2 separate regions of the Homo sapiens genome follow, and region 2 is linked to region 1. The links come from fine-mapping of genetic effects on gene expression. A gene starts in region 1. The other region holds a variant in brackets. All regions are shown on one strand. Distances are from middle to middle. Region 1 holds the start of SHROOM4 (shroom family member 4). Region 2 has its middle 38 kb from the start of DGKK.

Evidence for each region. PIP is the estimated chance that this variant, and not a neighbour inherited with it, causes the effect.
Region 2: its variant is the best candidate, but not a certain one, in a credible set for the expression of SHROOM4 in tibial artery (GTEx, PIP 0.61).

What each region holds. Positions count from the first base shown.
Region 1 is chrX:50,812,227-50,816,619 of GRCh38, reverse strand. SHROOM4 (shroom family member 4) reads left to right here and starts at 2,426. Exons shown (of 9, transcript NM_020717.5): 1 at 2,426-2,718. The coding sequence starts at 2,602. RefSeq lists an enhancer at 2,878-3,379.
Region 2 is chrX:50,507,096-50,511,488 of GRCh38, reverse strand. No RefSeq gene overlaps it. Among named protein-coding and RNA genes, the nearest start is that of DGKK, 38 kb to the right of the region's middle. The variant A/G (reference allele first, on the strand shown) is at 2,341.

The DNA of each region.
Region 1 (4,393 bases):
AGAAATCAAGTCGCTCAACCCCTTCAACTTACAGAGAGTGGGGGTGACATGCTTAATATCCACAGTGAATTAATGGCAGAACTAGCTTAGAATCTAGGCATCTCAAGTTCTACCCTGTACCCTTTCCACTATGCAGTCATGCTACCACTAACTGTATACTTCCAAAGAAGAATGAGATGCCTGCTAGCAGCACTGATTTTTATCAATAAAGAAGCAAGATAATCTAGCCACCTTATGTTCAGAATATCTACTACTTATGCACTGTTTGTACAAGGGGCTAGGTAATTTATGTTCTGCTGTAATGATGAAAAGGATAAACTGAAGAGTGCAACAAGACATCATTGTAGAGTAAGGCTTGGAATGAAAATAGGTTAGTTAAAGACTAGCTCAGTGCTTGCTTTCATAATAAGGTTGTGAGAGGATTTTTACTTTTTCCTTACCAAAGTGTTTTCATATGTATTATTTCATCTTAGTCTCTCAACAGTCCTGGGAGGTAGGAAAGTCAGGGCTTATTAGCTAAAGTTTACAGAGGAAGAACAGGAGACTGAAAAGAGTTAGCTCAGTGATTTGCCCAAGGTCACCCATCTAGTTAGTGACAAGGCCAGGGCTCAGATGTGTGTCTACTGCTTCCAAACGTCTTTCCTCTAGTCTAGACACATAATTCTAATAGTCCTTGAGTGATGACTATATATCCTGTGAACTGAACTTTACAGATATGCTGGGACTGAAACACGCTGGATTCTACCAAGTTACAATCATAGAAATATTATCCGAAAAAGAAAAAAAATGCTGAGTTTCAAGGTGGGGCAGGGCAAATGAATGTTATAACATAGGTTAACACAAGTAAGAATCAACAAGTTGAGTTGCCATTTTATCAAATTTTCTGCTTTCAAATAAGGAAAATATAAAACAATAAACATGATCAAGACGGTGTTTGTAGGCCTAAAAGATCGAGGATGGTTTCCCATGTGCATCATCTCTAAGGACTTTAAAAAGGCAGGCTATAAACACCTAAATTGCCATTTTATTAAAGAAAAGTCAGGGCAGCATCATATATGCAGACAGTCCAGGGGGGTGCTAAGAAAAAAGGATTGATGGAGGGGGGTGACTTTGAGAGACATTTCAGTGGCCTGCTGCAGCACACCGCAGGCTGCTGTGCGTTGAAGAGGCAGTGACAGGTGAGGAAGTAGAAGTAGAGAGTGGAAACCTTGACCGCAGAAAGCTGGCTGTGAAGGAAGGGGCCGCAGTGTGTTTGTTGGCCATGAAGAAGAAGCTGCACAAGAACAGGGGAAGAAACTGAACAGGCGAGACAGAGTGGGAACATCCTGTTGAGTCACAACTGAGTTGTCAACACTTTCTCCGCTAGTGCGAGGCCCTTTAAAAATTCACTGCCCGCATGTGGCTCCAGAGAAAACACCTCAAAGAGAGAAGATAACCTGTCCAAGTGAAGGCAGAGAAATCAGCACAAGATTCAGTAACAAATTCGCTTTTCAGGACTATTATTGTGGCTGTTTGGTCTATTACAAAAGCCCAGCTCAGAAACTACAAGGTCAAGCTTGAACAGATGTGCAGAGATGTTCTGGACCCAGTCTAAAAGCTGATTCTTCCCAAAGGCACAACATTATTAATTGGCCAGCTTATCAATGGATGCTCTTTCCTGTAGGTTTGTTTAGAGACAATACTGCTAGTCATAAAGTTTGCTGATTGCTGGCTTGCTCATCTCGGTGGGGCAAGTGCAAGGCCGTGCCAGGAACTCCAGATGACTGGAACATACACAAGCACAGTGCTAGCCATAGACACCAACACTGAGCCAGGGTGCGGGGGAGCCCGAGCAGGGGGCATCCTCAAAGTGCTTCTTTATTTAAACTATGCTCTGGGGCAATGTTTCATAATGACCCCACACACCTAGCGCGTACACACAGAGCAGTCTACACACACAGCCTCACTATGTCCGCTGGCCTGCTGGCTTTGCTTTCCACCCCTCTAGGCAAGGTCCACAAATTAGCAGCCTTTTAACCCTCCCAGGTCTCCGTTCTCGGGACCTTCAGAAGAAAAAGGCAGTCAGAGAAACATGAACGCGCTAATCAGGAAACCAGCGTTTCAGCCCACTCAGCCACGCGGGCCGTCCACACTAACGACTTTCACCTCCCCTCGCCTGGGCTGGCTGGAGGGGCGGGGAACCCGGCAGTAAAGAGGAGGACCAAAGAGGGGCCCTGCTTGAATGAAACAATGTAACAATTGATGTGAGGCCTCGCCTCGCTCCCACTCCCCAGCGATCCTATAGGCGAGGTCCCAGTGACTGCCCCTCCCCATTGCTCCGTTTTCTTGTCCATTACGCGCTATCCCTCCGCCTCTCCTTCTTTCTTTTCTTTTCTTTTTTTCCCTTCTCCTTTTCCCCCCTCTCTCCCCCTTTCTCCAGCTCCGTGTCATTTCCTCCTTGCGCTCGCTCGCTGCCTGAGCGTCTCCAGCCGGGAGAGTAGGCGGAGCAGGGCGGTGCGGGGTGGCGTAGAGCTGGAGGGCGATGGTGGCGGAGCTGCTGGGGGCGGAGGCAACGTAGCCCCCTCGGAAAAGGAGCCCGGCGGCGCCTGAGCCCAGCCGAGGATGGAGAACCGGCCTGGGTCCTTCCAGTACGTCCCTGTGCAGCTGCAAGGGGGGGCACCCTGGGGCTTCACCCTTAAGGGGGGTCTGGAACACTGTGAGCCGCTCACAGTGTCTAAGGTAAGAACTGGCGGCTGATGTCCTAACGGCGCCTAACTTTGAATGGACAAGCGGGTGCGAAGGCTGCCGCTGGACGGGGCCCTCAGGCCAACTTTGAAACTTAGGGCTGGGAGCGAAAGACCCTCTGAGCGGCACGGAGGGGTCTTGCCACCAGTCCAGGTGCAGACATCCCCTAAGGGTGGCTGGAACACGAGCTGGGAGCACAACTGGCCCCCGGCTAGAACCTTGCGCGCAGACACACTCGCGAGGGCGCTGGGGCAGCCCTTGCTGCCCCACGTCGGGGCGGCTACTTCCCTCAGTTTGGGCCGAAGGAAGTGGAGGCTGTTGGGGATTTCTCCTTGGAGGCCTCTGCGTCCCTGCGGGACAGTGAAGGACTGAAGGGACAGTCATCGCGGCTTGGCAGCTCTCTTGGCAGCGTTGTCCCCTCTATCGACCGGCGGGCCGTCCCTCCCAGGCAGGTTGCAGGGCTAGGGGCTGGTGTGGGAACGGAGATGAGGCCATTGGTGGCTTTTGCCAGCCACACTTCCCACGGCCGGACGCGCACACATCCATTCAGCTCTTGGGGCGTTGTTGCCGCCGGTTCGGCTCGGCCTCTCCCTCCCTCCAGAGTCCTGCCCCAGCGCCGGCGAGATTTCCTGCACGTTGAGAAGTGTGGAGGAAACTTGCGCCATGGAGCGCAGCTGTGCTGGAGCTACTGCTGTTGCTGCTGCCGCTGCCGCCGCCGCCGCCGCCGCCGCCGCCACTGCCGCCGCCGCCGCCGCCGCCAGGGTTTGTTTGTTTTAGGAGTCTGTGATCTGCTGGAAGCCAAGTTGCAGCTGAGGACAGGAGAGAGGAGCTCTCCTGAGTGCTCCAGAACCCCCAAAGCGAGCCTCCCCCGTAGGGGTGAGGGCGAGGGGTAGGGGCAGCTGGAGCTGTTACCAGGAAGAGTGACTTGTGGGACGACTCACCTTGAGGTGCCAGATTGCCAAGTGAACGGACTTTACGAACTTTATTCCACTTTTTTGTTGTTTCTCTTAAATCCTCAAATCCGAAAAGCCCTCCCGCTTCCAACCCGCTTAAATGGCAGTTGAAGTTGTAGATGTGGGTTCAGGCTGGAGATAGAAAGATGTGTCTTTTCAGCAGGGAGCAAATATCACTTTTTTTTTGCGGGGGGGTGGGGTTCAACATTGGTCACATCTCAGCAGAGGGTTCAGCAAACGTCCACCGCAACACACACCCACAATAACCTGTGCGGCATTCGCCTTGCATTGGAGCCTGTGGTTGACTTCCAGTGTATGGGATCCTTCAGGCCTTGGGGCCCACACTCTTAGCAACCCTGGAGTGTTGCCATGGGTGTACCAATCAGATTGAGGAGTCTGAGGTATGCTGAGGCAACATTTTGAGGGGCTGGCAGGGACCCCTCTGATCATTAGCCTCCCCAAACTAGCCCAGATCTTCATCCAGCACCCTTTCCCCCATACTTGTCATGTACTTTAACCAGCCTGAGATGCGTTTGTCATCCACTGTCACAACCCCTCCTGAGGCAGTCTCCCTCCAGTGTTCTCTGGAGAAAGTTATATGCTTTTTTTTTTTTTTTTTTTTTTTAACAAAAACACTCAACTCCTTTGGTGAGGGGAATCCTGGCCTTCAGGAATTTCTTCTAATCAAGCTCCTCCTCTCCCCACTCTTTCCACCA
Region 2 (4,393 bases), 310 kb after region 1:
GTACATGACAAAAGGCATGAACAAACCTCCTTGAGCCACTAATCCCATTCTTGAGGGCTTTGTTCTTATGACCTAATTACTTCCAAAGGCCCAACCTCTTAATATCATCAGTGTGGGGTTAGGTTTCAACATATGAATTGGAAGGAAGACAAACATTCGATCACAGCAATGGTGTTATTGAGTTATTCTGTATCCTTGCTGATCTTCTGTCTAGTTGTTCCATCAATTGTTAAGACAGGGTATTGAATCTCCAACTATAATTCTATATTTGTCTATTTCTCCTTTCAGTTCTATCAATTTTACTTTACAAACCAGCTCTGTTGGTTTGTCCAAAAACATTTAGGATTGCTATGTCTTCTAGGTGGATTGACCAAGAAAGACTATTACATAATGTAATAGCCACTCCTGCTTTCTTTTGATTAACACTTGCATGGAATATCTTTTGCCATCCTTTTATGTTCATCCTACCTATATCATTATAATTAAAGTGAATTTCTTATAGATAGCATTTAGTTAAGTCATGTTTTTAAAAAATTAACTCTGCCAATTTTTGTCTTTCAATTTGTGCATTTATACCATTTGTATTTAATGTAATTATTGATAGGTTAGGACCTAAGTCTATGAATTTATTTTTAACATCTATTTTTCTGTTGTTCCGTTTTTCAGTTCTCTAGTTTTCTTCCTTGTAGGTTACTTGAACATTTTTAGCTCAGTTTAGTTTTTATTTTAACTCTTTGTATAGCATTTTAGCAATTTTTTTTTGTATTCCACTTTACACACATAACTTATCACATTCTACTGGTGTCAACATTTTTCCATTTAGAGATAAGTGTAAGAACCTTACCTCCCTTTATGTCCCTTTGCTCTCCCTGCATTAGTCCATTCTCACACTGCTATATAAAAAACTACCAGAGACTGGGTAATTTATGAAGAAAAGAGGTTTAATTGGCTCATGGTTCTGCAGACTGTACAGGCTTCTCGTTCTGGGGAGGCCTCAGAGAACATACAATCATGGCAAAGGCAAACGGGAAGCAAACACATCTTCACATGGCTGGCAGGAGAGAGAGGGAGAGAAGGAGGAGGTGCTACACACTTTCAAACTACCAGATCTCCTGAGAACTCTATCACAAGAACAGCAAAGGGGAAGTCCGCCCCCATGATTCAATCACCTCCCACCAGGCACCTCCAGCAACACTGGGAAATTATAATTTGACATGAAATTTGTGTAGGGACACAGAGCCAAACCATATCACTCCCCCACTTATAATTTAATTGCCTAAATTTTTTTATACATTGGGAACAACTTTAGTGTTTTTATTTTTGCTTCAACCATCAAATATAAAAATTACAAGAATGAAAGTATTAGTTTGTTAGGGCTGCCATAATAAAATACCACAGACTGGGTGGCTTAAAAAACAGAAATTTATTTTCTCACAGTTCTAGAGGCTAAAAGTCCAAGAGTAAGGTTTTGGCAGGTTTCATTTCTTCTGAGGCCTCTGTGCTTGGCTTATGGATGGCCACCTTCCTGCTATCTTTTCACATGGTCTTTCCTTTGTGTGAGCACATATCTGTGTCCAAATCCCCTCTTCTTATAAGGACATCACTCATACTGAATTGAGGCAAAGCCGTATTACCTCATTTTACCCTAATTACTTCTTTAAAGGCCCAATATCCAAATATAGTCACATTCTGAGGTATCAGGGTTTAGAACTTCATACGAATTTCAGGGGGACATAATTCATTCCATAACATAAAGTCTGTTGTATTTACTCATATTTTTGCTCTTTCTGTGTTTTTTTTCTTCCTAATCTTCCAAGATTTATTCTGTAATCCCCTTTTTTGCTTTTAGAACTTCCTATAGCCATTCTTTTAAAGTAAATAGGTCTGCTAGCCACAAATTTTCTTAGTTTCCTTCCTCTGACAATATCTTGATTTTGCCATCCTATCTAAAGGATATTTTCACTGGATATAGAATTCTCATTTGGCTGTTATTTTCTTTCAGCTGCTGAAAAACTCTTGTACCATTTCCTTCCAGTCTGTATGTTTTTTTATGAGAAATTTGCTGTCATTTTATAGGACGTGCATCATTTTTCTATGGCTGCTTTCAAGATTGTTTGTCTTTAGTTTTCAAAAGTTTGACTGTAATGTGTCTTAGCATGGATTTATTTCATTATGTTTTGGATTCACTTAGCATCTTGAATCTGTAGTCTTATGTCTTTTGCCAAATTTGGAGAAATTTAAGCCATTTTTCTTCAAATACTTTTTCAGTCCCATCCTTTTTAACCTCCTCTTCAAGAACTCCAATTACATGGGGGTTAGATCTTTTATTATAGTTGCATA[A/G]GTCCCTGAGGCTATTTTTTCAGCCTATTACTTACATTGGGTATTTTCCATTGTTCTATTTTCAAGTTTACTGATTATTTCCTCTGTCTTCTCCATTATGGGCGATTGAGCCCATTCATTGTTTTTGAATTTTGTTATTGTATTTTTCAGTTCTAAAATTTCCATTTGGTTCTTCTTTATAGCTCCTTTTTTGCTGAGAATTTCTATTTCTTTTCTAAGACTTTCTATTTTTTTTTCAAGCATGTTTGTGATTGCTCTTTGAAACACTTATGACAGTTGCTTTAAAATTCTTTTTAGATAATTCTAACATCTGTGCCATCTTGTCTTTGGTATCTGTTGATTGTCTTTTGTCATTCAAGTGGAGATCATCCTGGTTCTTGGTATAATGAGTTATTTTTTATTGAAACCTGAACATTTTAAATATTTTATTATGAGACTTCGTATCTTATTTAAATCTTTTGTTTAGCAGGCCTCCTCTGACTCTGTTCTTGTGTGGAAGGGAGGATGCTGCTTCGTTACTGCCATGCTTGGATTAAAGCCCAGGTTCTCCATAAGCCTTCGTTGATACTCAGGGGGAACATTGTTGAACGTCTCAACCCTCCACACGACTTCCTCTGATATCACCCTCATTACCACAGGTGGATTGAAAGTCTAAGTTCCTCATGTGGTTTCCACTAACACGATGGAAGGAGGGTCTCATTACCTCCCGGTGAAAATTAAAATCTCAGTTTCACTCTTAGCATTTTCTGACACCACCCTGGCAGGGGTGGTGTGGGATTGGGGTGCCTTGTAATAGCCTAGCCAAGGTGGGAGTCTAGCTTCCCCAACTGGTCTTTGATGACAGTGGTGAAAGTGGGGCCACAGTTTTTCCTGGGTGTTTGGTTACAGAGTTTTCTGTCTTGTTACTTTTACCCTTTCCTGGTCCTTTGTCTAGCGAGAACAGGCTGTTCTAGGGCTTTTGTGTGTTTGCACCTGTTGGTGATTCTGGATTGCTGACTTCTCTAGTACCCAGTCTTGAATGTATGAGGCCCAAAGTAAACCCAGGGGACTCATCTCCATTTAATTCCTTAGGGCGCAAGGTCTCTAGCAGGCCTGCTTTCTCTTCTACACCTTTCAGAGTCTTCTTATTGTTGTTGTATGTATAACTACCAGGGCTTTTAGCTGTATTTAGTAAACAGGATATGGAAAAACATGTCTACATCACCATACTGGAAATAGAAGTTCCATAATCCCAAATGATAATTTTATATCTTTAACGTATTTGACATCCCTGCAGCATTTGATTCTGTTGAGTACATCTTTCTTCTTGAAACTGTTTCTTTGGATTGTTACCTTACTCTTCTTTTCTTCCTAATTCTTTTGGTGTTCATTGTTAGTCAACACTATGGGCTCCTTTTCCTCTGCCCATATGATACCTTTTGAGGTTCCCTAGGTTTCACCATCAAATTTTAAATTTCTCAATTTATATCCTATCATTATTAACTCTCGGACCTAAATATCAAGCTCAGATCCTTTTGTTAAACTCCCCATCCATATATCCAGTTGCCTACAGGACATAAACACTTGGATACCACATATTTATTGCAAACTTAACATGTCAAAAATTACAGTCATCTTTTTTTCCCTCAAGCCTGACTTTTTTGCCTGTATTCTTGGAGAGGTGGTATGACATAATGATTAAGCACGCGTACTCTGGAACCTAGATTCAAATCCAAATTCAGTTCATTACTAGCTGCATAGCTATGGGAAAGTTATTTAATTTTTCAGCATACCAGTTTTATCATCTGTAAAATGGCATAGTAACTACTTCACAGGTGGAAGGGTAAATTCTTATGACTTAAAATTTTTTAAAGGCTACTCCTCTTTTTCAAGATCCAATCCAAACCCATGACCATGCCAAACAAGGCATAGTCCCATGTGTTAATACCCTCCCTGTCACCGACACCTCTGTTATTGTCAATACACAGTTCATATGCTGTCCTACTAAACTGGTAGATTTCAAAATGCACCATGTTCTTTCTATCCCTACTCTGCGTGAAAGGTTTTGTCCTGC